6 linked regions of the Homo sapiens genome follow. The protein of the gene in region 5 purifies or fractionates together with the protein of the main gene of each other region. This does not show direct contact. Each region holds a gene or a part of one and is shown on either strand. Other genes may lie near its edges.

Region 1 (5,068 bases), on a different chromosome or scaffold from region 5:
ATCAGAGAACTTTCAAAAGTAACTGACTGTGATGGTTAATACCGAGTGTCAACTTGATTGGAGTGAAGGATACAAAGTATTGATCCTGGGTGTGTCTGTGAGGGTGTTGCCAAGAGATTAACATTTGAGTCAGTGGGCTGGGCAAGGCAGACTCACCCTTAATCTGGTGGGCACAATCTAATCAGCTGCCAGTGAATATAAAGCGGGCAGAAAAATGTGAAAAAGAAAGATGGGCCTAGCCTCCCAGCCTACATCTTTCTCCTGTACTGGATGCTTCCTGCCCTCGAACATCAGACTCCAAGTTCTTCAGTTTTGGGACTCGGACTAGCTCTCCTTGCTCCTTGCAGACAGCCTGTTGTGGGACTTTGTGATCGTGTAAGCTAATACTTAATAAACTCATATATATATTCTATTAGTTCTGTCCCCCTAGAGAACACTGCCTAATATACTGACTAAACAAGGTTTCTAAGTAACCTTTTTGTTTTACTCTGACTTTAGATGAAATGGACTCCACTATTTTGACTTTCCTCTCAACCCTTTCACCAACTTCAAGGAGCCTACAACTTCAATGGCATCAAAGAAGGCTATGTTCATTTCCTTGCTGCAGCCTACGCCAAACAGAAAACTGCACATTTTCATACACTCCCTATATATAGGACAGGAGGAGACAATTTACTGCTCCAACATCATTACTTTTTCTTTCAAGTCTCTATCACACTGACTTTAACATACCCCATAATCCCCTAAAACTGCTCTCTCACCACCTGTAAGGGATTAATGTCATCTTTTCACTACTGATCATCCTCTTCATCCTAACTCCTGACATGACTATCAGCCTATTTAAATAGCCTTGAAAATGAACCATCCAACACCTATTGCACAGGTTCTTAAACTTGTCCCAACTTCTATTCATCAGAATCACTGAAATTGCTTGTTAGAAATACATATTCTCAGCCCCTTTCCTTAGAAATTCTAGGCCAGTAGACATAGGTTTAAACCTAGGAATCTCACCCCAGGTGGTACTCATGCTTTAGTCCTTCAAATACAATCTGAGAAACACCATCCTCAATTTTCAGTTCCTTAAATCCTAAATTTGAAGAAATTAATCTACTCTCCAGCAACCAAATATTATAATCACATTTAAAGCTAGTTGTCACCTAAACTGCTGCCTCTCTGAAATCTTAATCCGACTCTCAGATCACAAGCTCTGGTTCTTCCAGCCTACTCATTCCCACACCTGCTCTTCAATTTCATGGGGACCTACCATCTCTTGACCATCTCCTTTCCTTTATCCAGTTCCTGATCTCATTTCCTTTCCTGCCCATTCTGGAACCCAATCTTTTTTACTTCTTAACAGAACCCTTGGCCCCCTCATATCTTTATCTCATATACACACATTTTACAAACCCCCATTTCTGCATAATTCTTACAATATGACATCTCAGGTTTCATGTCTTAACTACTTTGTGTTCATGGAGAAAAAGAGAAAGTCCTTTCTCTCACCACACAGCCCCCTGCTCCCCCACCCCAACCAACCACACCATAAATTCTGTCAACTTTTATTCCTAATCCCTTTGGAATCTATCCTGTACTCTCTACCCATTGCTAGTGCCCTAGTTTAAACCTACATAACTCTCACCTGGACTATTGTTCAGCCTGATTATCTTGTGTCAGTATCACCCTCATTTATTAAGCCTTTGAGTGAGATTCTCTCTCTCTCACTCTCTCACACACACACACATACACTCACTCTACAGTCTGTTTCCCAGGCTAGAATGCTGTGGCATGATCATAGCTCACTAAAACCTCAAACTGCTTGGCTCAAGCGATCCTCCCATCTCAGCCTCCCAAGTAGCTAGGACTGACTGATATATTTAAAAGGCAAAATGGACCAGGTTTCTTCCATATGTGAAGCACAATATTGGGTCCTCAGCCTACACAATAAAGACAAAGCTCCTTAGGACAACATTAAAAGGTTTTAAAGATCTAAACTGTAAATAATTAGTCTCTAGTCTTTTTTATCTTCAACAACCACCCATAGATTAATAATCTAGTTGTATAAAATTACTCATAGTCCTGCAAACCTCCCTTTGTAGCTCTGTATTTCCTCCTGCCTGGTACGATCTATTCCCTTTTACAGCTTATGAATGCCTATTTGTTCTTTAATATATTACACAGAAATGGTTATCTCTACCATTTTCTCTGACTACCTCCAGAAAGTTAACTGTTCTCTCCTCTATGTTTTGTATGTTTTTCTATTACGGAATTTATCACATGCACTAATTTCAATTCATTTGTGAAGTCTGACTCTTCTGTGAAATCATGAATCCCCTGAAGATAGGGAGATTTTTATATCTTTAAATAGCTAGTAAATTGTCAATCAATTTTTGTTGAACTGATATTTTTTGGATGAATGAAAAATCAACTCCTAAAAGTAACTATTGTGAGGAACAGAATATCAAAGGATTAGATTTATTCAAATAACACAACACTTGAGTTCTAATTGTGAACTCAAGCTGGAATCTGTAAGATACATAAAAATATCTAAGTTCTAATCCTTGCTTTATATAACTTAAAATCTAAAGGAGTTCCTACATTTACAAATATAAAATTCAACCCATCTTTGTATCTTTTGGCAAGCAAATCATTTACCCAGCTATTGTTCATTGTCAATGAATTCTCCAAAATGGAGATAAAAATCTAAGCATAAACCAAGATGGGTTTCTGAACAGCCAAAACAGCTTCACAAAGCTCTTTCCCCAATAAAGCTTATGATTCTTCACTAGGATGACCACATAGGTCAGCCCAGCATCTATCCAGTTTGCCCTTGGTCTCCCAACAAGTGTTCCAGTTCAGAAAAATTATACAGACATTCTACCCTTTACCCATCACAAAGGTTTTCGGACCATCACTCAAAAGTCAATTTGCTCTTACTTTACCCACAATTCTTTTGTTTTGTTTTGTTTTAAGAGACAGCGTCTGTTAACCAGGCAGGAGTCCAGTGGTATGACTGCAGGTAACTTAAACCTCAAACTCCTGGCCTCATGTGATGCTCCTACCACAGGCTCCCAAAGTGTTGGGATTACAGGTGAGGGCCACCATGCCCAGCCTTTACCCACAATTCTAACTTGAAGTTTTTTGGTCCACAAAGTCCTGCTGAGTGTTGCTGTTGGTCATTAGCACTGCCTATCCTTCGCTATCTTACAAGTCTTTTAAGATGTACCAATCCATCCTTCTCAGAACCTAATTGATTGAATGGTAAAACCTCTAGTGTGAAGATTCAATTAAAACATTTCTTCTAAAAATTTCGTTCAATCACTATTTGTACTTTAATAATTGAGATGTGTAGAAGGTACCATTTTATTCCTAAGAAATACACAAAAAATGTCCTTGTTTCTAATTCTCCTTATCTCCTGAATGCATTTACACATTATCTGTAACCAATCTAATTTATTCCTCTCTATTCACTTACTTTACTTAGGTCTTATCCATAAATATTTTATCTCTGAAACAAAAGTTGATTCTTAAAGGAATCTAAGTTAACTGAAACAAAGCAGCTTCAAAATAAGTACAAAAAAATCCTCTAAAGAACCCATATTTGAACACCCAAATAAGCTGTGATCTTTCCTATAAAACTATTTCACATAGCTGAAATAAAGCTATAGCCACAAATATTAAAGTAAAAGCTTTGCTACATATCCACTAGAACAAAGGTACTAAAAAAAAATCTGGTTAATTCAAGGAGATGCATTCTCTCATTCTGCTTTCCTTATTTGAAGACTAATGATTAAATTCAAGTAACTTATCAATAGCAAAATTATTTGAAAAAGCCCCTTATAAAGAAAACACACACACACACAAACCCAGGAGCAGAGAACTATTTACTTAATAGTACTGAAATAACAGCAAAGTATCTATGAATAATGACTTTCCATCAATATAAACTTTCTCCTTCAACAGAAAGAACATCCTTGCCCTCATTACACTCCTCTAGTCCAGTTATGTTCAGCAGTAAACAAAAGAATGTATCAGTGACCATAACTCACATTCGAGTATCTTTCTATACATTAATGCCATTTTCAAAAGAACACAGCCAAAGACATATTTATTTAGCCTATTTCTTCAATTTTTTTTTTTCTAATTCTGGCCTGAAGTCATTTCTAGGATTCCTTTAGAAATGGCTTTCTCTAATTTTCAAAATATTGATGATGTCATTTCTTTCTTTAAAGATCTTTGACGATAACCTCATACAGCTGACCTTTCAACAACACAGGTTGGAAATGAACAAGTTGACTTATATACATACAGTTTTTTCAATAAATATGTTGGAAATTTTTTTGGAGATTTGTGACAATTTGAAAAAACTTGCAGATGAATCATGTAGTCTTGAAACATCAAAAAAAGGAAAAGAAAAAATTAGGTATATTATGAATGCATAAAACATATATAGTCTATTTTATCATTTAGTATTATAAAATATAGAGAAATTATAAGAAGTTAAAGTGTATCAAAACTTAGTAAACACAGACACATATGGTGCCACTTGAGGTGGTACAAGAAATTTAAACAAATGTAAAGATGCAGTATGAATCATAGCTGTATAAAATTAATTGTAGTACATACTGTAATAATTTCCTGTTGCTATTATGAATTTCCACTTAAAATGCTGTGGACACTAATCATCTCTGCATGTATTGGAGTAAAATGTAATCTCTTGTTCTTGTGTATTTTTCATCATGTTTAGTACAATACCATAAACCTTGAATAACACCATGGGACCCATGTGAAGTGCCACTAGTGATGCTAGAAGTGCTCCCAAGAAGCCAAGAAGTCATGCCATTACAAGAAGTTAAATTACCTGGTACACACCCTAGATGGGTCTGCAGCTGCAGTTACCCATCATTTCAGACAGACACCTTATAAACAGGTAACATAAACACAGTATCGGTAAATGCAGTACTGTAAATGTATTTTTTCTTCCTTAGGAATTTATTTTCCTTTAGCTTATTGTAAGAATATAGTATGTAATGCATATAACAAACAACGTGTTAACTGACTTTACAGTAGG
Region 2 (5,068 bases), on a different chromosome or scaffold from region 5:
ATAACTTATACAAATTAAGTAATTAGTTCTTATACTAATTTAGTTTTTCCTATTCTTTCTTTCTTAAGAGATGGGGACCCACCATAGTGCCCAGGCTAGTCTTGAACTCTTGGGCTCAAGTCATACTCTCATCTCAGCCTCCCAAGTAGCTAGAACTACCTGTGGAAGGATCACGCCCAGCCCTAGTTATTATTTCTAATAGTATACTCATGAATCTTCCCTTACTTTAAAGTGTTTATGGTTTATTTTAATTACCCATACTTATTATAAATTCTAAACTACTAGAAATTTGACCAAAAGCTTGGTATGTTAAACTGAATTTTTTTTTTTTTTTTTGAGATGGAGTCTCACTCTGTTGCCAGGCTGGAGTGCTGTGGCATCATCTCGAAAGCTACTTGAGGCTGGTGTGGTGGCTCACACTTGTAATCCCAGCACTTTGGGAGGCTGAGGCAGGAGAGCTGCTTGAGCCTAGGAGTTTGAACCGAGCCCGGGCAATGTGGTAAGACCCTGTCTCTCATTAAAACAAACAAACAAAACACACACACACCAAGACTACTTGATTTCTCCCACTTGATTTTGAGATTCCTCAAAAGGAGATAATCTTCCAACAGCATGTTTTATACTACGTACAATCTCAACTCCACTTTATAAATGAAACATTCTAATCATACTGTTATTAAACCCTGGTTTTCAGATTAAGTAAATTGTGTTGAAGAAAGCAGAATTTAGAGGAAAAATCATAAATTGATCTTAGATTACTGGCTTGCTTCTTTCTCTGTTTAATCTTTTTTTTTGGAGATGGAGTTTCGCTCTTGTTGCCCGGGGTGGAGTGCAACGGCGCGATCTCGGCTCACCGCAACCTCCGCCTCCTGGGTTCAAGCAATTCTCCTGCCTCAGCCTCCCAAGTAGCTGGGATTACAGGCATGCGCCACCACGCCCGGCTAACTTCCTTGTATTTTTAGTAGAGACGGGGTTTCTCCATGTTGGTCAGGGTGGTCTGGAAATCCCGACCTCAGGTGATCTGCCCACCTCAGCCTCCCAAGTGCTGGGACTACAGGCATGAGCCAGCGTGCTGGGCTTTTTTTTTTTTTTGAGACAGTCTCGCTCTGTCACCTAGACCACAGTGCAGTGGTGCGATGATGGCTCACTGCAATCTTGACCTCCCAGGCTCAAGTGATCCTCCCACCTCAGCCTCCCGAGTACCTGGGACTACAGGCATGTGCCACCACACCCAGTTAATTTTTTGTAATTTTTTTTGGTAGAGACAGGGTTTCGCCATGCTGCCCAGGCTGGTCTCGAACTCCTGGGCGCAAGCAATCCAACTGCCTTGGCCTCCCAAAGTGCTGGCATTACAGGCGTGAGCCACTGCACCCTGCCTTCCCTCTTTAATCTTTCTCAAGGGATACAGCAAACAGATAAAAACCTCAGTATTTGTTTCTGAGCTAATTGTATACAGTCTGTTTCACTGAGCAAGTCACTCTGTCCTATGAAGACATAAACCATATTACTATGATATAAAATGTATATTATTCTTTTTTTCTTTAAATTGGTTCCTCCCTTGTTGCCCAGTTTATTATCTCTGCTGCCATTACAGAAAGCTGCTTTGTAACTACCTTAACCTGGTGGCAGTCATTTTAATCATCTCAGAAACCATCACCATATTTAACTCCACATGTCTAACTACTTCTATTTTAGCATGACACATGCATTAGGCTGCAAAGTCTTAGAACCCAGATATCAAATCTGGCATTTCCTTGTAATTTCCCATTTGTCTGGAGCTAAATATCAATTTTACACACACACACACACACACACACACACACACTATATATATATACAGAGAGAGAGAGAGAGAGAGAGAAAGAAGCAGACAGAGACACTCCCCCTCCCCCTGCGCCCGGTCTCTGTTGCCCAGGCTGGAGTGCAATGGCGCGATCTCGGCTCACTGCAACCTCCACCGCCTGGATTCAAGCGATTCTCCTGCCTCAGCCTCCAGAGTAGCTGAGATTACAGGTGCCTGCCACCACGCCCGGCTAATTTTTGTATTTTTAGTTTCACCATGTTGACCAGGCTGGTCTCGAACTCCTCACCTCAGGTAATCCACCTGCTTTGGCCTCCCAAAGTGTTGGGATTACAGGTGTAAGCTACTGCGCCCGGCCAATAATATTTTTAATTTAAAAAATCTTAAAGACAATTTTAGCTATTTGAGCTGTACATATTTAACCGGTATATCAGTATCTGTATCTATGTATATACGAACATAAAATTTTGAGAACCAACCAGGAACTTCACGTAACAGGTACTGTGGTAGAGATCTGTGAATGACAGTTTGAAAACAGCTATATTTATCACTATGGCTAGGTGGTATACCTTTTATCTAGTTACTAAGGCATCCTACCTACTCAGTATGTACAACTTTAGTTGTAATACTAAAGTATCATGGATGCTGTTCAATATAAATTCCAGCTTATAAAAGTTATTATAGTTGGTCCTTGACCAACCCAGGTTTTAGCTGCATGGGTCCATTTATATTTGGATTTTTTTCAATCAAACTCAGATTAAAAAATACAGTACTCGGATCAAAAATACAGCATTCACGGGATGCGAAACCTGAGTATGCAAAGGGCAGACTTTTCATACACCAGGGTTCAAATTCCTATGCCAGGATTTTGGCAAGGATCATCGGTATGTGGTTCTACAACCTGATACTTTCCCTAGGTTTACTTGCTTACTCTCTTCTTAAAGACAGGTATCCATATTCTTATTCCACTAAAATAAAATTAACAGTAAGCTTAGCAAAAAATGAGATGATAATCTGTTTTTAAAGGGCATTAAAAGGACTGAGAAACACATGAAGAAAGTTCTGATAACCTTGGTATTCTGAAACAGGTTGTCAACTTTGCAAATACAAAAGTAGCAAAATCTCTGCACCTCAGTTTCCCCATCTCAAAAAGAATTACCACAACCAGGGCCCAAATACTGTGCTATTTCTGAAGACAGACATTAATCTTTAGCATGGTAACTGGCACAAAATGGGCATTTAATTAATAGTTTCTTCTCCCCATCAAAAACACAGACTCAGTGTTTCTTGAAAAACCTGAAGAGATAATCCACAGGTTGAGGATAATAATCATACTGTCCTCCCGACTGTTTCTAACACTTACTGCAGAATTCTTTGGCATCTCCAATATTTAGGATTCTAAACAGAAGTTACTTAAATTTTCTTTTTTTCCTCTCTTTTTTTGAGACAGAGTCTCACTCTGTCGCCCAGGCTGGAGTGCAGTGACTCGATCACAGCTCACTGCAGCCTCCATCTCTTGGGCTCAACTGATCCTCTTGCCTCAGCCTCCTTTGTAGCTGGGATCACAGGCATGAACCACCACGCCCAGCTAATTTGTTTTTTTTTTCTTGGTAGTAGAGATGAGGTCTTGCTATGTTGCCCAGGCTGGTCTTGAACTCCTGGGCTCAGGAATCCTCCTGCTTGGGCCTCCAAAAGTGCTGGGACTACAGTTGTGAGCCACCATGCCCAGCCTGCAATTATTGAAATTTCTTTTCTTTTTTTCTTTTTTTTGAGACGTAGTCTCTCTCTGTTGCCCAGGCTGGAGTGCACGGGCATGATCTGGGCTCACTGCAACCTCCGCCTCCCGGGTTCAAGCGATTCTACTGCCTCAGCCTCCCAAGGAGCTGGAACTACAGGCACGCACCACCATGCCCAGCTAATTTTTGTATTTCTTTTTTTTTTCTAGTAGAGACAGCGTTTCACTATGTTGGCCAGGCTGGTCTCCAACTCCTGACATTGGCTTATGTTCTTTTTAAAAAGTTTGATGGTGAGTAGATTTTAATTAAATGGTGCTTTTTATTGAAATTTTCTTTAAAAATAAAACTCTGTATTTGTAATGTAAGTCAGGAGTAAATACAGATTTTGGATAAATGTCTACACTTCCTAAGTCAACTCTCAGAGTCACTTTTAAGATCACTCTAGCTGTCTGGGGTATCCAACTTGGGAAATTCAGAGCCTCAGTATTTAGAAAGAAAATCCTTCCTCAACTTTAATCTGATGAAAAGTAAATCTTTCCTTGAAAGTCGATGATATGCCACAAAGTTAAATGCGCCATCTGGCAAAAGGCAAATTAGAACAGGTTCAAAATTTACAACTGTCTACAACATTCAACTATTTGGTCAAAATAGAACCTAATTGGCAATTTTGACTTTCACACCACACGAATGTACCGAGAAGTTTGGTATTCCCCAGGGCAATTTTTTTTTTAGCGCAAATGACAAACACAATAACCTAAATTTAAAGTCAATTCTAGATTCATAAAGGCAATGAATATTCTAGGTTCTCAGAACAATCTATTCTCGTATCAGAAAAACAGAATGACCATAACATCATTTGGAGTCAATTAAAGTTGAATCCTGAAGGAAAATAATAAAGAAAATATGTTCAGTTCTTATGAATCACACATTTAATAACAGCACTTTTCAAAGTCAAAGTTAGTTCCCATTTTCCAGGATGAAAATGACTGTTAGTCATTAGGTGATCAGCTATTAGGTGATTAAAACAGCTATTAATTAATAAATTGGGGGTAAGGGTCTCAAATTTGGTGCCCCTCAAAAGGGTGGTAACATGATTGACTAGTTTTAAAATTACATAAAAGTTTCAGTTATTTATGTAGATAATTCAGAGATAATATATCTCAGAAAATCAGGACCACCATCTACTCTTGATGCCTTAACACAGAAAAACAGCTTAGTATGGAGTTCAGTCTAGACTGGTTAGGTGCCTAGCATCCCAGATCCCAGTACCTTCCTGGCTCTTAGCATCATAAAGTTAGGTAACTCAGTTCCCTCTGAACGGAGGCAAGCGCCAGCCAAAACAACTTCAGTAAGAAGACACGGTACCTTGGCGAACAAATCATAGCTGAATGTAAGACACCAATCTGCAGACACTGTAGTAGCAAGGTACTGATGAGGAACTGAAAGGCCATCTTTTCCTTATCCTCTATCTGCCATGTGTGATTCCAAGCAAGTCTTTTAACTCTTGCAGTTTCCAAGTCAGCAAAAAGAT
Region 3 (5,068 bases), on a different chromosome or scaffold from region 5:
ATCCCAGCTACTCGGGAGCCTGAGGCAGGAGAATTGCTTGAAACTGGGAGGTGGAGGTTGCGGTGAGCTGAGATCATGCCATTGCACTCCAGCCTGGACAACGAGAGCGAAATATGGTCTTAAAAAAAAATATATATATATATATATATATATGTGTGTGTGTGTGTGTGTGTGTGTATATATATTTGTGTATATATATATATATATGACTAAGCGTAAATGACAAAATATAAAGTCATGCACATGCACATGTGCCCGTGTGTGTGAAAAAGAAGATTCTGGAGGCTGTAGACCTCCCTCAATGCAACCACGTAGCTTCAAAATGTACAGTTTCACTGAAAGCTCTCCAAATTTAGAGATACACTCATCTTAAAGCTTTATATTACCCATTAGTTTTCTTCTGAAAATAAAGCAAAACATAAATCAAAATAAAGTTTTGAGACACTGTGAAAACATTCCAAATGTTTACAGTCATCAAATAGTGTGAAATGCCAAACATTAAAGCAGAACAATTTAACCATGTTGGAAACACTGCTCTGGTGGTGGGAAAAGTATAAAAAACATAAACTTATCAAATTATTTGGAACACCTGGAATGATAAAAATCAAAGAAATCCGAATAAGAATGAACCTTAGAGATCATTCTAGATATACCCCTTCCTAAGGACAACTCCCCATAGAGTATTCTCAGCAAGTGGCTCACTAGCTTCTCCCTTTTGGTGACAGGGAATTCATTACTTCCTAAGAAGACTGCCTCATTCCATTACTAGACAACTACACTTGTCAGAAAGTGATTTATTTTGATCCAAAATCTGGCTCCCAGTGACTCACAGGGCCTTGTTCTGCTCTCTGAAGCCAAGTACAGACGCATCAATGAAAACAAACGTAACATATCAGTTCTATAACATAATAGGTGAGATCAGAAAATATGAATCCAGAAGAAAAGTGAGTTTGGACCAAGTGTTCAAAGAAAAAGGGAACTATGAAATGGTTAAAAAAAAAATGTAGAAGGCCAGGCACAGTAGTTCACACCTACAATCCCAACACTTTGGGAGGCTGAGGTGGGAGAATCACTTGAGCCCAGAAGTTCAAGACCAGCCTGAGCAACATAACAAAACCTCATCTCTGCAAATAATAATTTCTAAAAATTAGTTGGGCCACCTGAGCCTCCAGTAAAAACAAAATCAGGTTAAAAAAAAAAAAAATAGCCAGCATAGTGGTGTGCACCTGTGGTCCCAGCTACTCTGGAGGCTGAGGTGGGAGGATTACTTGAACCTGTGAGGTCAAGGCTGCAGTGGGCTGTAATCGCACCACTGTACTTCAGTCAGAGCGACAGAGTGAGACTCCATCTCAAAATTACATATATATATATATATATAGAGAGAGAGAGAGAGAGAAAGAGAGAGAGAGAGAGAGAGAGAGAGAGACAGACAGACAGACAGACAGACAGAGACAGAGACATAGTACAAGTGCTAAAATAAGGTGGACTATCTTGGCTAGAACTGAGTGACCAGAGTGGAAAAACAAAGGAGAAAAAATACATAAAAGAGTTGATGGAAGATCCCTGAAGTCTAGGTGAAAATTACTGCAACTAGGCAAAACTATTCTGTACTTTGGAAAAATATTGAATGAATTTGAAATGTAAAGGACAGGCAGTAAATAAGCAGAACATGCAGCTCTAAAACACAGCCATCTCAGAGATTTAGAGCTGGTAAAAAAAAATCATAGACATTATGTATTGCAACACCTTAATTTTATAGACTTAATTAAATCCCAAGAGGAAAAGGTATCAATTTCCACTTTCATATTCCCCTCCATTGTAATAACACCTTCACTGAACATTTTCCTCTTTTGTACCCTTTTCTCCCCACCTCCTGCACAGCATGCTGAATCTGAGATGTTGTATAAGATCCTAACTATTTCAAAACTCAGCTTTCAGAGGGCAAAGAAGGGATAACGTAATAAAGCCCAACTGCCTGAATCATCCTGGCTTGCCACCAAGACCCAGAATGGACAGGATGTGGTCACACTGCAGGACTGGCTCTTGCCGGCCATGGAAACTAGCCAGGTATTATGCTGATACACGTATCTCCATCAGCAGCTAACAAGACAAGGAATCAAAATCACTGCTAATTTACCCACAAAACTGTCCATCTTTTCCCCTGGTATCATTCCCCTGGGTCTGCTATTGGGCATCCAAATTCCATCAGTTTCTTTTATGCAAACCTACACCTTTTCCTCTTTCACTTACCATCCATGCTACCCTCAGGGTACCATTTTCACCACCTTCCCACATCCCCAGGGTCACCCAAACTCTGAGCTTCTCGGGTTTTCTTCCCTAATCGGTCTCATTTTCTTCACACTTCACCAGTGCTTTAAAAATGCAGCTTTGTCTCGTAAATACCTGCCTTTTGAAAGGACATACTACTAAATTTAAAACACCAGGCTGCAAGATCCTGTTTTTATAAAAACAAAGGAAGAAAAACAGCAAAAAAAAAAAAACCAAAAACACCACACACACAAAAACCCTGCCTATATGTTTAAAGACATTTAAAACAAGTACAGAAGAATACTCAGCAAAGTGTTAACAACAGAGACAGAACTGTGGGAGAAGAAGGGAAAACTATTAATTTATATATGCTTTTCTCTAGCTTGGAGTACTGCAATAAAAACTGTCATAATTACACAATTTTAATTCTTAAAAAGCAAACTCTTGAAATGAAAAATAGAAAAGGCTGGGTGCAATGGCTCATGCCTGTAATCCCAGCACTTTGGGAGGCTGAGGAGGGAGAATCGCTTGAGGCCAGGAGTTCAAGACCAGCCTGGTCAACATATTGAAACTCCCCCGCCGCCCACACCCCCCACCAAAAGAAAAGAGGAAAAAAACCCACTTAAATTAAAAATGCTAATGCATCTTCAATAAAGATTAAATAAGATTGATAAAGATTAGTCAGTGAGCAGTGAGGACTGTTGCTCCCAGCCCCCATAACCCTAAATGGTGAGTAAGGGCTAATTTTCCACTTAGGCTGCCTTCTTAGACCTTACTGTCCCCAGTCAGCTTTTTTGCCCATCGTTTATTTGTTTTCATTTTTCCTAATTTAGAAAGCAATCAAACTAACTGGTGAAAACATTATTAAATTGTTTATATCCCATATTCTAGAAATTAGGCTTCTATAAAATAACAACCAATTGCACAAATTAATTTTTTTTATTAAATTGAAAGTTAGCCTGTAATCCTAGCACTTTGGGAGGCCAAAACAGGCGGACTGTCCTTAGCTCAAGAGTTCTAGACCAACCTGGCTTACATGGCAAAACCCTGTGTCTACAAAAAAAATACAAAAATTAGTCAGGCATGGCGGTGTGCACCTGTAGTCCCAGCTACTTGGGGGCTGAGGCATGAGGATTGCTTGAGCCCAGGAGGTCAAGGCTGCAGTAAGCCACGATCACACCACTGTACTCCAGCCTAGGTGACAAAATGAGACCCCATCTCAAAAAAAGAAAAAAAAGAAAGTTGAGGATCTGAATCCATCATGCAATGTACGCTTCCCCAGCAAAGAAAACATGAATTAAAAGGACTTATGTGGCTGGGCACAATGGCTCATGCCTGTAATCTCCACACTTTACGAGGGCAAGGCAGGCAGATCGCTCGAGCTCAGGAATTTCAGACCAGCCTGGGCAACATGTTTGAAATCTTCTCTCTACTAAAAGTACAAAAATTAGGCTGGGCGCGGTGGCTCATGCCTATAATCCCAGCACTTTCGGAGGCCAAGGTGGGTGGATCACGAGGTCAGAAGATCAAGACCACTCTGGCCAACATGGTGAAACCCTGTCTCTACTAAAAAAAATACAAAAACTAGCCAGGCGTGGTGGCGCGCGCCTATAATCCCATCTACAGGTGGCTGACGCAGGAGAATCACTTGAACCCGGGAGGCAGAGGTTGCAGTAAGCCGAGATTGCGCCACTGCACTCCAGCCTAGGCGACAGAGCGAGATTCTGTCTTGGAAAAAAAAAAATTATTCAGGCATGGTGGCAGGCACCTGTAGTCCCACCTATTCAGGAGGCTGAGGCAGGAGAATCGCTTGAACCTGGGAGGTGGAGGTTGCAGTGAGCTGAGATCAGACCACTGCACTCCAGCCTGGGTGATAGAGTGAGATTCCAGCTCAAAAAAAAAAAAAAAAATTACCCAAGCATGGTGGTATGCTCCTGTAGTCCCAGTTACTTGGGAGGCTGAGGCAGGAGAATCACTTGAACCCAGGAGGCAAAGGTTGCAGTGGGCTGAGATCATGCCACTGCACTCCAGCTGGGGAAACAGAGGGAGACTCAGTCTCAAAAAAAAATTAGCCAGGCATGGTGGCATGGGTCTGTATTCCCAGCTCCTTGGGAGGCTGAGATGGGAGGATCACTTGAGCCAGGATGGTTAGTTAAGGTTGCGGTGAGCTGTAACAGCACCACTGCACTCCAGCCTGGGTGACAGAGAGAAACCCTGTGTCAAAAACAACAGAAACTCATGTAACTTGAGCATCAATTTCACCCTCTAAAACTGCTCTGCCCCATAATACCTTCCTTTGTAAATAGAACCACCTCCTATCCAGCCTGAGAAGATTCTCAGCTCCACTGTCTTCCTCACTTTCCACATATAGTAACATCCAATGCCTGTTCCACCCTACCTCCCAAATAGCTCTTAGACGTGCCCCCTCCTCACGATCCCTACTGCCACTGTCTGTCCCACCACACAGCCTCAATCCACCCACTATGACCATCACCATAACCTTCTATACTGCACTTGTAGACTTGGCAGAGATATTTCATATTCAAGGTAGTATGATGCAGTGAAAAAAAAGTGGGCTTCTTCCAAGTTTCATCGTTTAGTTTTGTGGCCCTGGGAAGAGACCTAAACCTCTCTAAGACCCAGTTTCCTCTTCTGTATAATGCAAGAAACACCTACCTTGAGTAAGGATTGCTGCATGAATTAGAGGTGAGGCTTGTAAAGAACCTAGTTCTAAATGGAGCCTTGTACCTAAGTCAATGCTTTATTATTTTTATTATCTTCTTATCAGTAAAAATGAGCA
Region 4 (5,068 bases), on a different chromosome or scaffold from region 5:
CTGTTGGAGTTTGCTGGAGGTCCACCCAAACCCTGTTTGCCTGGGTATCACCAGCAGAGGCTGTAGAACTGCACATATTGCAGAAGAGCAAATATTGCTGCCTGATCCTTCCTCTGGAAGCTTCGTCCTAGAGGGGCACTCGCTTGTATGAGGTGTCTGTCGGCCCCTACTGGGAGGTGTCTCCCAGTTAGACTACAGGGGTGTCAGGGACCCACTTGAGGAGGCAGTCTGTCCCTTCTCAGAGCTCAAATGCCATGCTGAGATAACCACTTCCCTCTTCAGAGCTGTCAGACAGGGACGTTTAAGTCTGCAGAAGTTGTCTGCTGCCTTTTGTTCAGCTATGTCCTGCCCTCAGAGATGGAGTCCATAGAGGCAGTAGGCCTTGCTGAGCTGCGGTGGGCTCCACCCAGTTTGAGCTGCCCAGCCACTCTGTTTACCTTCAAGCCTCAGCAATGGCAGACGCCCCTCCCCCTGCCAGGCTGCAGCCTCACAGGTGGATCTCAGACTGCCATGCTAGCAGTGAGCCATGCTCCATGGGCGTGGGACCCACCAAGCCAGGCATGAGAGAGAATCTCCTGGTCTGCAGGTTGGTAAGACTGTGGGAAAAGCACAGTATTTGGGTGGGAGTGTACCGATTTTCCAGGTACAGTCTGTCACGGCTTCCCTTGGCTAGGAAAAAGAAATCCCCCGACACCTTGTGCTTCCCAGGTGAGGTGACACCCTGCCCTGCTTTGGCTCACCCTCGGTGGGCTGCATGCACTGTCCAACCAGTCCCAACGAGATGAACCAGGTATCTCAGGTGGAAATACAGAAATCACCCATCTTCTGTGTCGATCAACACTGGGAGCTGCAGACTAGAGCTGTTCCTATTTGGTTATCTTGGCCATTCAGTAAAGTTATTTAATTTAAAACATTATCTGAGATGATATTATTTCTACTTCTTGGTGTATAAAAATTGTTTTTTTAAATGAAATGATGATGATAGTTGATGAGATCTAAAAAATAAAAGGTTGATAACACATCCGAAGATTTTTTGAAAATAGAATTGGTCTGTGGGAACCACTGTTTTAGGGAATTTTGGTCATGTATAGAAATTAATGGATTATATATAAAGAAAAATTTGAAATTTGTATGTATTTGTAGACTTTAAGCAAACAGAGCCAAATCAGATCCTGTCAAAAGTTACTGATTGTGATTTATAATGAAATGAGATCTACCTATACATCATAGTGTTCTTAGAATATTAACGTACATTGTGAATAACTGCATATAGTTTCTGACTGAATATAAACCCCATCTTTAAACTTACAAATATATATAATACCTACATAAATCAAAAGTTTCAAGGTACATGGCTAGTAAAGATTAAAATGCACAATTTCTAAACTGTTTTAAAATGGTCTAATTTAAAACTACTGACTTACATAACTTTGGCTATTAATCAAAATATAACTTCAGGGATATTGAGGAAATGGTCAAGATGACATTTTCAAATAAGAAGTAGTGGGAAGTAAGAAACCTTGATGTGAGCACTGCTTCACAGTGTAAAACTGACATAAAAATTGTTAAGGAAAAAGGTATATCTTTGAAATTGAAGGTGACTAGATATGTGAATGCTGTAGTGCTGTTAACAATACATAAAGAAGGTTAAAATATATTCTATTACATGTGTTCTATGTATTCTATTACAGTGGTTCTATTACATTAAAGGTGTCTCAGAAAATTCTGCTACAATGTTCAAGTCCATTAAATTAACAAGTGACTTCTTTGCCTGGTAAGCTGTTTGTTAACATTTTGCTAGCTGTCAAAAGGACTGACAGATTATGCAGCTTTATTTAAATTCTAATAAAAATGCAAAGATCATTCAAAATAAACATATATAATTATGCACTGTGAAAAGCAGTATTGAATACTTCAGAAGAACAACACAAGAAAATTAATTTCACCCTACTGGTTTTTATGCACCTACAAGTCTCAGGTTGCAATGTCACAGATGATCTCAACTCAAGCAGGATTATTGTAAAGCTAAATTAGTTCAGGTGGTAACTTGACTGCCTCTTCCCCTTGCTAATAACTTTGCCTATTAACTTGTGACTGTGAAATGATTTAAATAGTATGGCCTCCATGAACTGATGATCAGTTATTAAATAAAAATGGTTTGCCCTACAGGGTAACAATGGTTCCCAAGAAAATGACTTTTTTGACCCCAAATATGGCATATGGTATCCAATCTAAAAAAGTTCACTGGGTTAATTCTACTTTTGTTCTAAACTATTAACATGATCAATAACTACATATTGTTTAGTTCCCAAAAGAAAGTGTTTTGTTTTGTTTCATGTGTTTGAAGTATTATTACAAGATCATTTAACTTACTTTTGAACTTTTTCATTGGCCACTTGGGAGGCCTCTCTGGCATGTTGAAGTTGTAATTCCATATTTGCTCGCTCTGTCAGAGCTTGTTGCAGTTGAGTAGCCAGTTCCTCATTTTGTTGTTGAGTGATGGAAACAATGTTCTCTCTGTTTTTTAAAGCTTCTTCATATGTACTAAGGGTATAGTTAAACTGATCCTTCAGATTTTCTTCTTGAGATAAAGATTTGTGTAAACTGAGAAAATATTAAAAAAAATTTAAAGATAAGTAATGTAAACTGAGTGATCTATGATCTATTTAACAAAAACCTCCATTTAGAATCTCTAGTTCTAAAAATCAATAAATACTTAAATGAGCAAATGAAAATAATTTTTATGTCACAACATTATAATTGATAATTTCTCTGCTTCTAGGCTGAAAGCTACCCAGACAAATGATTATGCTACCAAAGCATACAAAAAGATGCTGCAAGATGTTAATTTAATTATATCAGTGTAAATATTACATTCAATTTTCTTTAAAAGGAATAGCAGAGAACTGGAAAATAAAGTATCTCTAGGCAAATAAAAGAATGTAATAAGCTGAAAGAAGTGAGAAGAGAATGGGCATTGGTTTAGGAGATCGAGGGTCTATTCTGCCAAGCACTTAATGAGAATGGATGAGGTTTATGCAAACACTGACCAGCCTTCTACATAGCATTTTCTACTTGATCTTCTACTTGTCACAGTTGAGATATAAATGAATTTAAAATCACTAGTCAGATTGCACAGAAATAAAATGTATTCATATATACATGTGTATATTTTTTTTTGGCTAATGAATCTCTTAACGAATACATCTACTCATTAAGTCATACAGAGAAATAGCATATAAATTAAGACTAAATGAATGCAGAAGAAAATGCAGACAAATAGAATCCTAAAATGCTAAAGGTCAAATCTTTGATATGTCATTACACCTACCACCTGAGGTTATTTTGAAATGGCACCAAGCACCTCACTCAATTAAATAAAGACATTTTGAAAATATAAATATTTAATAAGAGAAATTTAAACTCCACACAGGAGATGTTCTTTTTTATTAAATATCATTTCAGTATATGCATACAAAGGAAATGTCGATTGGAGACATTTGAAGTAAAACAACTTAACTATATAATATAGATTGATAATGGGAAGGAAAGCAATATCATTATTAAACCTGCAAAAAGCTAGTTAGTGAACTTTGGCATTGTCCTAATATCTAGCCTGATACTTTCTTTAAAACTGTTCAAAGTAATTATAAATTTCCTCTTTTAGTTTAAGTTATCTATAAGCCTTTACAGTATGCTTATTTTGGAGAAGGCGTCCCATAGAACTAGGATGGATATGAAACAAGGACAGTCAGCATACCAAATGAAACCACTTCAGGATTCAAACCCCTAAGAATACGGACTGTTACTAAGCGCTGGTCAACTGGTTACTACACAGAAAATTAGAATAGTGTGTAGTGCCACATTTGTAGAGTGCAAAAAATACCTTTTTTCATGGTTTGCACATTGTTATTAATCTAACTATCCCTACTTCATTTCTTCTCAGATTTTTCTACCAACCCATATGCTTAAAGGCTGTCTCTTGCCCATTTTACTATTTTTTCTGTGTCCTCTCACTTTCTGCATTCTTGTCTGTTCCAAGTTCCAATTTTCTTCAGCTCACCCTCTTTATCTCCATGAAAGATGCAAGAAAGAAAGAAAGAAAAGAAGAAACAAACTAAAAGCTAAACCTTAAAAAAGGTACTTGTTTATGTTCTTTATATTTAAAACATTAGTTATATTTTAATTGTTAATTACGTTTTAAATTACACAAAGTGCATATATACAAAGTATTCAGCTTGAAAAAATGTGAAGAACAAAATACAGAACAAATGCAGAAATCTAGAAGACCCCCCAGTGTTCCCTCCCATTTTTTCCCCTCCCCAAAAGGTAAGTACTAATCCAACCTTTATCAAAATGTAAATTGCCTATTTTTAAACTTTTTGTCTGGCTTATTTTCCTCAACAATTGGTAAGTGAAGTTCACCTTGCTGTTGCATATAATTCATTGCTTTTTATTGCTATAAAATATTCTGTTATATACATATGCCGTAACTTATTTAACTGTCCACAGTTGTTGCTATGGATATTCCTGTACATGTCTTTTGATGGACCTAGGTATTCATGTGTAAAGTAGAATTTCTCCAAAGGGTATGCATTATTTTCAGATTTAGTACAATGATAATAGATGCTGATTTAGATTTAGATGCTGCTAATAGTCTTCCAAATTAGTTGTACCAATTTGTACTCCCATCAGCAAAATATGAGTTTCAATTGCTTTATATCCTCCCTCAGAATGGCACTGTCAAATGCTTTTAACTTTAGTTATTGTAATATGGATGCAGTGATGTTTCATTCTCTTCGTATTGTCTTATGTATGTGTATATTATTGATTGGTTGAGACAAGTTCTCACTATGTTTTCCAGGCTGACCTTGAACTCCTGGGCTCAAACAGTCCTCCTGCCTCAGCCTGCTGAGTAGCTCGGACTATGGGCATATGCCACCATGCCTGACTCTTAATGCTGTCTTTTGATGAAGGTAAGTTCTCAATTTAAATAAAGTTCAATTTATCATTGTTTCTTTAATGGCAATGCTTTTTGTAAACTGTTTAAAAAATCTTAGCCTACTCC
Region 5 (5,068 bases):
ACCCGGGGGGCAGGGATTGCAGTAAGCCCAGATCGTGCCACTGCACTCCAGCCTAGGCGACACAGTGAGACTCCATCACAAAAACAAAAAACAAACAAAAAAAAAAAGGTGGAGGCTGTCTATAGTATTCCAGGTGGCAGAGGAGAGGGCAGATCCCAAGGCAACGCAGGACACAGAATCACAGGGGCTTGGTGGATGACTAAGGTCAAGATCAGGAAAGTGTATAGAGTCCAAGAAGCCTTTTGGCCTGCTTGGGCAATGGGTGACCATGACCGCAGGTCCCTATAGAGCAGATCCTGTGGGAGGGAGGGAGAGTCCTGGGGAAAAGTTGCTGGACAAGCTGGTTTGAGTGCCTTCCTGGCCCCTGGAAGGACTGGAGAGAGAAGCAATAGAACCATCCAGGGCTTTCCATGAAATGGAAGAGAGCTGAGAGGGGTACTGGCCTCAAGTCATCCTCCCTTGCCCGAGAAAACACAAAAGTTCCCAGAGCCCCTGGTGAGCTAAGGACACTACTGAGGAGCAGTGCTGGTCTGTGCCAAGGGCCTTGTGCCAGGAAATACCTGGTGCCTAGCTATAGGATTTGCCTTCACCAGCCCCTGCTGTCTCTGGACAGGAGGCTGGACAGGCCAGAGAGACCCAGCCCAGCATGTGCCTGCTGCCCAGACCCATGACTTGCACTTGGCAGTGACACCACAATCACTTCCCACTCATATGGCCGTGATGTTGGCCCCCACTCACCTCATTCGGGCCTTTCAGCAACCCAGTGAGGGAGTCAGGCTGACATGCACAATCTTCCTTTTAGTCCCTTCTACCTCTTCTATCCTCCCCCCATCCCCTGCCTTGATCCTGAAAAGATCTGGGTCAGCAGGTAAGAATACAGGAAATGGTTTGACATGTTAATTACAGTAACAGGAAGAACACAAAGGTAGAAACCTGTAATGGAACGAGGAATGAGGATATGAAAATGCACACACCTACCTACAACAGTGTAGACCCTGCCTAAGGAGGGCCACAAATCTGGCTCTAAACTAGGGATGTCCAATCTTTTTGCTTCCCTGGGACACACTGGAAGAAGAACTGTCCTGGGCCACACATAAAATACACTAACACTAACTACAGCTGATGAGCTTAAAAAAAAAAAAAAAAATCGTGGGCAGGCGCAGTGGCTCACACCTGTAATCCTAGCACTTCAGGAGGCCGAGGTGGGAAGATTGCCTGAGCTCAGGAGTTTGAGAACAGCCTGGGCAACATGATGCAAAGCCCATCTCTACTAAAATACAAAAAAATAGCTGGGTATGGTGGCACACACCTGTAGTCCCAGCTACTGGGACGGCTGAGGCAGGAGAATCACCTGAATCTGGGAGGCGGAAGTTGCAGTGGTCTGAGATTGTGCCACTGCACTCCAGCCTGGGTGAAGGAGCAAGACTCAGTCTCAAAAAAAAAAAAAAAAAAAAAAAATCACAAAAAAAAATCTCATAATGTTTTAAGAAAAGTTTACAAATTTGCATTGGGCCGTGTTCAAAGCCATCCTGGGCTGCATGCGGCCCACAGGCCACGGGTTGGAAAAGCTTGCTCTAAATTTTCTCGAAGAGACTTATTCAACAGAAACGTAACAGGAGCTGCACATGGAATTTTTAATTCTAGAAGCCACATTTTTTAAAAGTAAAAAAATTTAAAAAAAGAGTGAAATTATAAAAATACATTTAACCCAATATATACAAAATATATTTCAACATGTGATCAACATAAAATAATATTATTATCCATACTTTTACTTTTTTAAACTAAGTCTTCACAATCCGTATGCACTTGACTCTTGTGACACATCTCAACCTAGACAGTGGCATGTGGCTCCTGTGTTGGGTGGCGAAGGTCTAGAAGTTGTTGTATTTGGGTAGATGCATCTACAGTGTCCCACAACCCAGTGTCCATAAAATAACAACCATTCTGGAAGAACAGGCAGCCAACACAGCTCAGGGCCCCAGAGGAGGCATAGGGTCAGCATCAACACTACCAGACACATGGAACTCCAAGTTTCACAGTGCCTTCCGAACAGAGACATCACCAGCAACTGACACGATCACCCCAACAGGCCCTAAAAAGGCAATGTCTGTCAAGCTGAAAGGCAACCTACCTCCCTGGGGGCCCAGCTTCCTGGGGCTTGACGAGGCCTACAGGGGCTTTTAGGCTATCTGGGAGACGAGTGACCAGTTCTTTCAGCACCTCCTGCTGGAATATTCTTTCTCAGCAACTTTGCATTTGATAGATGAGAAACAACCAGGCGGAAAATTAGTGACAGACTTGGGTCTGGATCCAGGACCGACCTTTGATCTCACTTTCCTTCCACTGTGACCACCCTCCTGGGAATGAGGACACCACTGGAAGGACATCTCAGTAAAGAAAGAAGTGCTGTAATCTAGGAAAACCACAGCCCACGTAGGAAAAGGACAGGGATTGGAAATGCAACAAACATTGATTGTGGGGGGTCAGTTGGTAAAGGCCACCCTGCAATGTTCATGTGGCAAATCAAAGTCCAAGACGGGATCCCCACTGGATTCCATGGCCTCAAATGCTTCCAGTCATCAACTTCCAGCTCCTGACAAGATCATCAATGGATTGGATGGCTCAGCATAAGTTGTTACTACTGTTAAAAGGACAAGAAGAGCTGTTGCTATTGGCAAGTGGCAGGAGTGGGCATTATCTTTCTATATGGGAACTAGCTTCCCAGTGGCACCTCCAGCAATTTACAGAAAGCCATCTGCTGATGGGATCTGTCCCCTCAGAGTCACAAAGCTCTCCCTAACAGGACAAGAAGATGCCTGGGGAGCAAAGCAGCCTGGAGGGCAAGGTCACCACAGGAGGGAGGGGGATAGCCCACCTAGGCGACACCCAGGGAAAGGCTGAGCAGGAATCCACTGAGGACCTGGGACAGTTTTGGGCAGTCAGCAACACATTCCATTTGGCCTGCTTCACCAGGGACTCCTGGCACTCAGCTGAAACGGAATTTGGGGAGGACAAAGTCTGAATCAACGTGCATCATCCATCAGTGAGCCAGCAGCCAGCAGGGAGGGTGACCTTCCCAGGGCACAGCAGTCAGATTCCCAGGATGCCAGGACACTGAATCAAAGGCATGGGGACTCAGGCTGCAGATGCTCCCACCCCACCTAGTGCAGACCATCAAAAGACTCAAACTAATGGTAACTGGGGCCAGGGTGATGACTGTCCTGTGAAAGCTAAACCCATACTTCTAGATGAGGTCACAGAGGTTGCAAAGTCACCCTAGAGAGTTTGGAAAGGAGCAGGTAAACGAGAGCACTCACATCTGAGGAAAGAATGCAACCACTAAGAGGGGGCTGAGAAAGTCACAGAACAGACCCAGGTCCATCCTAGATCCACGCTCCTTTCCTCTTCCCTCCACTGGAACCCTCTCGGAAAGCTGAGGATGAGCCTGGAGGACTCAAAAGAACTCCACTAAGATCATGACAAGGAGACACAGCCAGCAGCCTTCCCTGGAGGGACAGCACGCTCCAGGTAGGCACCAGCTGACTTCCTTCTAACTTCCAGAGGAATCCCACCATAAATGGCCATGGAGCTGCCTGCCTGCAAAGGAGCCCCAGCCCCAGGTCAGACAGGGCCTCATCCGAAGGACAGCCATTTCCGGGAGCCTCAGAAAATACCGAAACAGGCGCTCTACCTTTGGGATATACCTGGCCCAGTGGATTTGGCTCTGACTGTAACATCAGAATCCCTTCTCACCCCACCCAGACTAAGAGAATCCACATGTCTGGAAAGGCTCAGGTAAGGGTATTTTTGAAGCTCCCTGGTGGCTTTTTATGGACGGTGGATGGAAACCCAGTAAATGCACTGAGAATCCAGAGAAATGAACACCCACCTAAAGCACTGAAACACATGATCAGAGCAATGTGCATGGTCTAGTGAACTGTCAACACTCAAAGGGACCTCGAAAGACAAACACCCCAATCTCCTCCTCATCTTGAAAGCCCAAGCACAGAAGGGCAAAATGCCACCGGCCTCCTCCGTGAAGGGTGCCCCTCAAGCCAGGCTGCCTCTCTCACACAGCAAGAAGACACTGACTCCCTGCTGAGGTCAGAGCACTGGCGTACCCACACCTGTGTCATCAAATGAGGGAAGCTATTACTAGACCTTTCCTCCCTATACAACCCACAACATTCCACAACGTGTTGTGCAGTTTAGCAAGAGAGACGAGGGTCTGCTTTACCTTTCCTGCACCAGCGACATCACAAGTTCACTGGAGGCAAAGTAAGTCTTACGCTACCTCAGTGTACTCCAACTCTCATAGAGCTCATCTGATAGAAGAGTCAGTGATGACAGAATATTCTATTTATGCACTGTCAGTATAACATTGAGGAACTGCTTTTTTTTTTTTTTCTGAGACGGAGTTTCGCTCTTGTCACCCAGGCTAGAGTGCAGTGGCAGATCTCAGCTCACTGCAACCTCCGCCTCCTGGGTTCAAGCAATTCTCCTGCCTCAACCCCCCAAGTAGCTGGGATTACAGGCACCCGCCACAACACCTGGCTAGCTTTTTTTATTTTTAGTAGAGACGGGTTTTCACCATGTTGGCCAGGCTGGTCTCAAACTCCTGACCTCAGGTGATCCACCTGCCTCGGCCTCCCAACATGCTGGGATTACAGGTGTGAGCCACCATGCCTGGCCGAGGAACTGCATTTTTACATGTTAATTTTAATTGATTGTGTTTAAATAGCCACATGCAGCTAGTCCACCCTATTAGACAGCACAATGCAAGCATGACTCTTCCTACTACTACCATGTGCCTATGCAGACACTGGAAAAATACATAGGAGTAGTAGAGGCCAAGTAAAGAGACCACAGTGGATTCTCCTCTGCAGAAGCCTTCTCTGGAGCAGGGCAAGGAAGGCTGTAGGGAGGCATATAATGCACATTACACAGCCCTCCTCCACAAGCAACAGAGAGACAGCTCTTTCCCAAAGTGCTATCTACAAACTATCACCAAGGAACAAGCAAAAAGAGTTTGAGAAAGAACTGTAGACTTGTGTCAGAGCAGAGC
Region 6 (5,068 bases), on a different chromosome or scaffold from region 5:
CAAAATCTCATTCTTGTCTGCTGCAAGAGTTCCCTGAGAAAATAAAAATAGATATTAAAAGCTCTGCATGTCTTCTTTCTCCCCTAGTGCTACTATCCATTCGACCCACAACCTAAATTTCCACAATCAAGAAGTGGAAGGATTTTATCAAACATCTTATAGTTATTAGTAAATTTTCATCTTAAGGGCAATTATGATCTTACTTAGATAAAATTCTCTCCTATACCAAACACTGGCTTCACAAGTCAAGACTGAAAGGGAGTGGGGAGAATTAATACTAACTGAATACATATTATGTATTTGGTCCAGTAAAACTTAGAAAGGTTATATAAATTCCCCAAGGTTAAAAGGTTGTCCTTATTCTTCTACGAAGAATTGAAATCTGAACTTGACTCTTCCAAACCTGGATATACCTACCAGTATGCCTTTTTTTTTTTTAGACAAAGTCTCACTCTGTTGCCCAGGTTGGAGTGCAGTGGTGCAATCTCAGCTCACTGCAACTGCCACCTCCCAGGTTCAAGCGATTCTCATGCCTCAGCCTCCTGAGTCGCTGGGATTACAGGTGTGTGCCAGCACACCCAGCTAATTTTTGTAGAGAAGCGGTCTCACCATGTTGGCCAGGCTGGTCTTGAACTCCTGACGTCAGGTGATCCACCTACCTTGGCCTCCTCAGAGTGCTGGGATTACATGCGTGAACCACCACACCAGGCCCCAGTTTTCCTATTATTGCTATATAAAAATCTCTATCATTACTATTATTAAAAATGACAACCATTTATTGAGCAAACATAATGTACCAGGCATTGTATTAGTAACTGTTACAGCTGGGCACAGTGGCATGCACCTGTAATCCCAGCTACTTGGGAGGCTGAGGTGGGCGGACTGCTGGAGCCCAGGAGTTCAAGACCAGCCTGGGGAAAATAGCAAGAACCCATCTCAAAAAATAAATAAATAGATAAAATAAAATACAAATAAAAGATCTGTTACAACACATTACCTCACTTCACAGTTAGTCATCCTACAAGTAGCACTGTTATAACAAAAACCAGTATTTATTAAGCACTTACAATGTGCTTCATACGATTCTGTGTTTTACGTGCATCATGCCATTTAATTCTCACCATAAACCTATGAGGTAGAAACTACTATTTTCTACATTTTACCTATAAAGAACTGAGGCAGAAAGGATAAAATTACACAGAAGCATGATGTGAGTAGTTATTATGACATTTATGAAAGTAACAAACTCAGCACGAACTCTTCCTATACACAGAGGTCATAAACCCAAGAAACTACAGGTGCCCAGCAGGGAAAATGGCAATGAGGGAAGAGGCGTGGTGGGACTGACAAAAATTCAGTGCTGGCCAGGTGTGGTGGCTCACTGGCTCACGCCTGTAATCCCAGCACTCTGGGAGGCCCAGGCAGGCAGATCACTTCAGGTCAGGAGTTCAAGACCAGCCTGGCCAACGGGGTGAAACCCTGTCTCTACTAAAAATACAAAAATTAGCTGGGTGTGGTGGCATGCACCTGTAATCCCAGCTACTTGGGAGGCTGAGGCACGAGAATCGCTTGAGCACAGGAGGTGGAGGTTGCAATCAGCTGAGATCACACCACTGTACTGCAGCCTGGGCAACAGAGTGAAACTGTGTCTCAAAAAAAAAAAAAAAAGTCAGTGCTGAAGACGGCAGTCATACACAGTCATACACGGCTTCAGGCAAGTGTTAGCACGTGGGAATGCAGAGCCAGTGCCGTCAATTCCATTTTCCACTAAGAACACAAAGGCTCAGGGAGAAGCAGTAATTCATCCAGGATTACAGACCAAGCAGGCAGCAGAGCTGCTCCTATTATGATTTTTATATCCTTTCAAAACAAAGCTGTACAGGGATCTTAAAAGAAAGAAATGTAAATTTAACAAAAAAAAAGTTATGGGAGAGCCTACAGCGAACTGTCCCCAGTTAAGTATTAATGTAGTAAGATCTTTATACCTGTAATCTCCCTTGGGCTTGTACTGGTGTTAGTCCAGATTGTTGTATAAGTGCCCAGAAAACTGTATTATAAAGATTATTGATGTGACCTGTGAGGAGAACAAAATAGTAATGTTTATATACATAAAATCTTTATTGAATATTCATTCTTCAAGGAATACTAGAGCCCTGACCCTCTCCTCTTTCATAGTAAAGAGATCTCAGAGACATTCAGTGACTTGACCGAAGTCCTACACACGGAACATGGAGGGAAGGAGCAGTAGGGAAAAAACTTCATCCCTAACAACAGTTTTATTTGGTCATTTCAGTTACACATTATACAAATCTGTTAACTTGTGTGTTAATCCTAGGAATACTTTAGAAGTTATTTGATTTATATTATTTCAATCTCTTTTCCAGTTCTTCTGGAAAATTCAAACTAGAACAAGCAAGTAAAAGCCTCACAAACATCATCACAGTCACATAAGGCAAGGGTCACAATTCAAATACCCACTGAGGCCAGCATGAACATAAATGTGTAAAGCAGTGGGTGACCCCAGAGGAACAACAGGGAATGGCAGAGACTATGGCACACTGGCATTTGTGTGTGTGTGTGTGTGTAAAGGTAGCTGCCACTGAACAGGCTTTGTCTAGTACTAAGTAAGAATGCAGATCCAGTATTGCCACATCTGATTTTTTTAAAAAATAGAGATAAGGCGGCTGGGCGTGGTGGCTCACGCCTATAATCCCAGCACTTTGGGAGGCCAAGGCGGGTGGATCACCTGAGGTCAGGAGTTCAAGACCAGCCTGACCAACATGGAGAAACCCCATTTCTACTAAAAAATACAGAATCAGCCGGGCGTGGTGGCACATGCCTGTAATCCCAGCTACTCGGGAGGCTGAGGCAGAAGAATCCCATGAACCCAGGAGGTGGAGGTTGCAGTGAGCCAAGATGACACCACTGCATTCCAGCCTGGGCAACAAGAGCGAAACTCTGTCTTAAAAAAAAAAAAAAATAGAGATAAGGAGTTTTTACGTAAAATTTAATTTTTCAAATACTTTTAACTAATTGAAAAAATATTTAAATACTGCATTCTGTACAACGTATATGTTGAAACAAAGTATATGTGAGCCAATCCTGTATCAGATCAACACCTGTAAGACATGGAATTGGTGGTTTAACTACATGTGTTTATTTGGTGCCACTCACAATCTGCTTGTCGCCAGCTGAGGTAGTCCTTTAAAGTCTGGTTGCTGGGATACACCACGACTCTTCCGTCAAAGCCTGGGGGATACAGAAGGGGCTGGTCCTCAAAGTAATCCCGCCAATAAAACACATAGCTGGAGGCAAACTGGGAGGCCACGTGAGTCATGAACTTACTTGAAAATGTAACGCACATTGGGTGGAGTAAGAAAAAGAAAAATACACGGAATTAGTTCAACACCATGATAAGACCTGTGGGTACCACAGAGAGTACACAAACTGCCCAGAAAGCCAGGAGATAAAATGCATTTGGCTAAGAAACACTATTTTAATACCTTGGTTCTGTATTTTTTTTTCTTTTTTTAGGACAGAGTCTTGCTCTGTTGCCTGGGCTGGAGTGCAATGGCACCATCTTGGCTCACTGCAACTTCTGCCTCCTGGGTTCAAGTGATTCTCCTGCCTCAGACTCCCGAGTAGCTGGGATTACAGGTGCAGGCCACTACGCCCAGCTAATTTTTGTATTTTCAGTAGAGATGGGGTTTCACCATGTTGGCCAGGCTAGTCTCAAACTTCTGACCTCAAGTCATCTGCCTGCCTCAGCCTCCCAAAGTGCTGGGATTACAGGCGTGAGTCATCACACCTGGCCAGTTATGTATTTTAAATGCAGCCTGCCTCTCCTTCCAGTTCTATTAAGTAACCTACTGATACTAAACCTTTCCCTACAGGATGTGATACGAATTTATGATTCAAGGGGTATTTTTAAATTTTATTTTATTTTTTAAAAGATGGAATCTCTCTGTCCCTCAGGCTGGGGTGGATTGGCACAATCATAGCTCACTGCTGCCTCAAATTCCTTGGCTCAATGGATCCTCCTGCCTCAACCTCCTTAGTAGCTGTGACTATAGGCACATGCCACTGAGCCCGGCTAATTTTTAAATTTTTTGTAGAGATGAGGTCTCACCATCTTGCCCAGGCTGGTCTCAAACCTCTGGGCTCAAGTAATCCTCTCCCTTACCCTCTCAAAGTGTTGGGATTACAGGCGTGAGCCACCACGCCTGATCTGTTTGTGTTTACAGTCATGAAAGGAGAGAAACCATTGTTGTAAAAAAAATGCCAATTCAGGCTGGGCGTGGTGGCTCATGTCTGTAATCCTAGCACTTCGAGAGGCCAAGACAGGAGAACTGCTTGAGGCCAGGAGTTTGAGACCAGCCTGGGCAACACAGAGAGACCCCACCTCTATTAAAAAAAGAAAGAAAGAAAAAACCAATTCATTATATGATTTGTTTCCCATACAGCGTTTCAAAATACTGCCAAATCAAATATCAGATTTGTGTATTTTATAATGAGATCTGTCTTGAGGAACAGTGTAATGCAATGCACGTAGAGACTATCACTGGCTAAAGCCAACCTATGAATTGTTAATATTACATTCTTATAGTCTCTGTTTCTAATCTTAATGTTCAATGCCAGGTCAGTCTAGAAACCAATCTTATGGGGCATGTGGGGAAAGAATCAGATAAAAGAGGCACACAGAATGCTCGGCTATCAGATGGAAGTACAACAATCTAAACAGGAAATATACATGTACTCTGCAGTTACAAATACTGCAGACATCATCTGTAGCCTGTAAGTCTGCGATTAAGATAAACAGAAAACCAGATGCTGGGAGGAAATATTCTGAAGAAAGGAGTTAGGTCATGGAATTACCTGGCTCTTCTTTTAAACCAATTGGTTTTCCGCTTGAACACAAAGCTGTACTCATCACTCTGTCCATACGCGATCACAATATCCTCTAGTTCTTCCATCACAGTCTGCGCACATTTGGTCATCAGCTGGAGAGCACGGCTGTCATTGGGTTTTGCAAAGTTGTGCTTCTCAGCAAACCTTCACAGGGGAAAAA

Evidence for each region.
Region 1: the proteins of SH3BP5L (region 5) and RNF146 purify together in Homo sapiens (affinity purification with western blotting, with the first as the bait; one study listed by BioGRID). This does not show direct contact.
Region 2: the proteins of SH3BP5L (region 5) and WTAP purify together in Homo sapiens (affinity purification with mass spectrometry; 2 studies listed by BioGRID and IntAct, with this or other methods). This does not show direct contact.
Region 3: the proteins of SH3BP5L (region 5) and BICD1 purify together in Homo sapiens (affinity purification with mass spectrometry; 2 studies listed by BioGRID and IntAct, with this or other methods). This does not show direct contact.
Region 4: the proteins of SH3BP5L (region 5) and MIPOL1 purify together in Homo sapiens (affinity purification with mass spectrometry; 2 studies listed by BioGRID and IntAct, with this or other methods). This does not show direct contact.
Region 6: the proteins of SH3BP5L (region 5) and THG1L purify together in Homo sapiens (affinity purification with mass spectrometry; 2 studies listed by BioGRID and IntAct, with this or other methods). This does not show direct contact.

Annotation. Positions count from the first base shown.
Region 1 is NC_000006.12:127,272,832-127,277,899, reverse strand, and holds part of RNF146 (E3 ubiquitin-protein ligase RNF146), read right to left. Parts: intron 1-5,068. UniProt on the Homo sapiens protein: E3 ubiquitin-protein ligase that specifically binds poly-ADP-ribosylated (PARsylated) proteins and mediates their ubiquitination and subsequent degradation. May regulate many important biological processes, such as cell survival and DNA damage response.
Region 2 is NC_000006.12:159,729,644-159,734,711, reverse strand, and holds part of WTAP (pre-mRNA-splicing regulator WTAP), read right to left. Parts: intron 3,828-5,068; exon of another isoform or gene 3,747-3,827; intron 2,316-3,746; exon of another isoform or gene 2,281-2,315; intron 1-2,280. UniProt on the Homo sapiens protein: Associated component of the WMM complex, a complex that mediates N6-methyladenosine (m6A) methylation of RNAs, a modification that plays a role in the efficiency of mRNA splicing and RNA processing.
Region 3 is NC_000012.12:32,112,821-32,117,888, reverse strand, and holds part of BICD1 (protein bicaudal D homolog 1), read right to left. Parts: intron 1-5,068. UniProt on the Homo sapiens protein: Regulates coat complex coatomer protein I (COPI)-independent Golgi-endoplasmic reticulum transport by recruiting the dynein-dynactin motor complex.
Region 4 is NC_000014.9:37,497,444-37,502,511, reverse strand, and holds part of MIPOL1 (mirror-image polydactyly gene 1 protein), read right to left. Parts: intron 2,605-5,068; coding exon 2,374-2,604; intron 1-2,373.
Region 5 is NC_000001.11:248,818,269-248,823,336, forward strand, and holds part of SH3BP5L (SH3 domain-binding protein 5-like), read right to left. Parts: intron 2,994-5,068; exon of another isoform or gene 2,135-2,993; intron 1-2,134. UniProt on the Homo sapiens protein: Functions as a guanine nucleotide exchange factor (GEF) for RAB11A.
Region 6 is NC_000005.10:157,732,852-157,737,919, reverse strand, and holds part of THG1L (probable tRNA(His) guanylyltransferase), read right to left. Parts: intron 5,053-5,068; coding exon 4,876-5,052; intron 3,345-4,875; coding exon 3,175-3,344; intron 2,075-3,174; coding exon 1,986-2,074; intron 34-1,985; coding exon 1-33. UniProt on the Homo sapiens protein: Adds a GMP to the 5'-end of tRNA(His) after transcription and RNase P cleavage. This step is essential for proper recognition of the tRNA and for the fidelity of protein synthesis.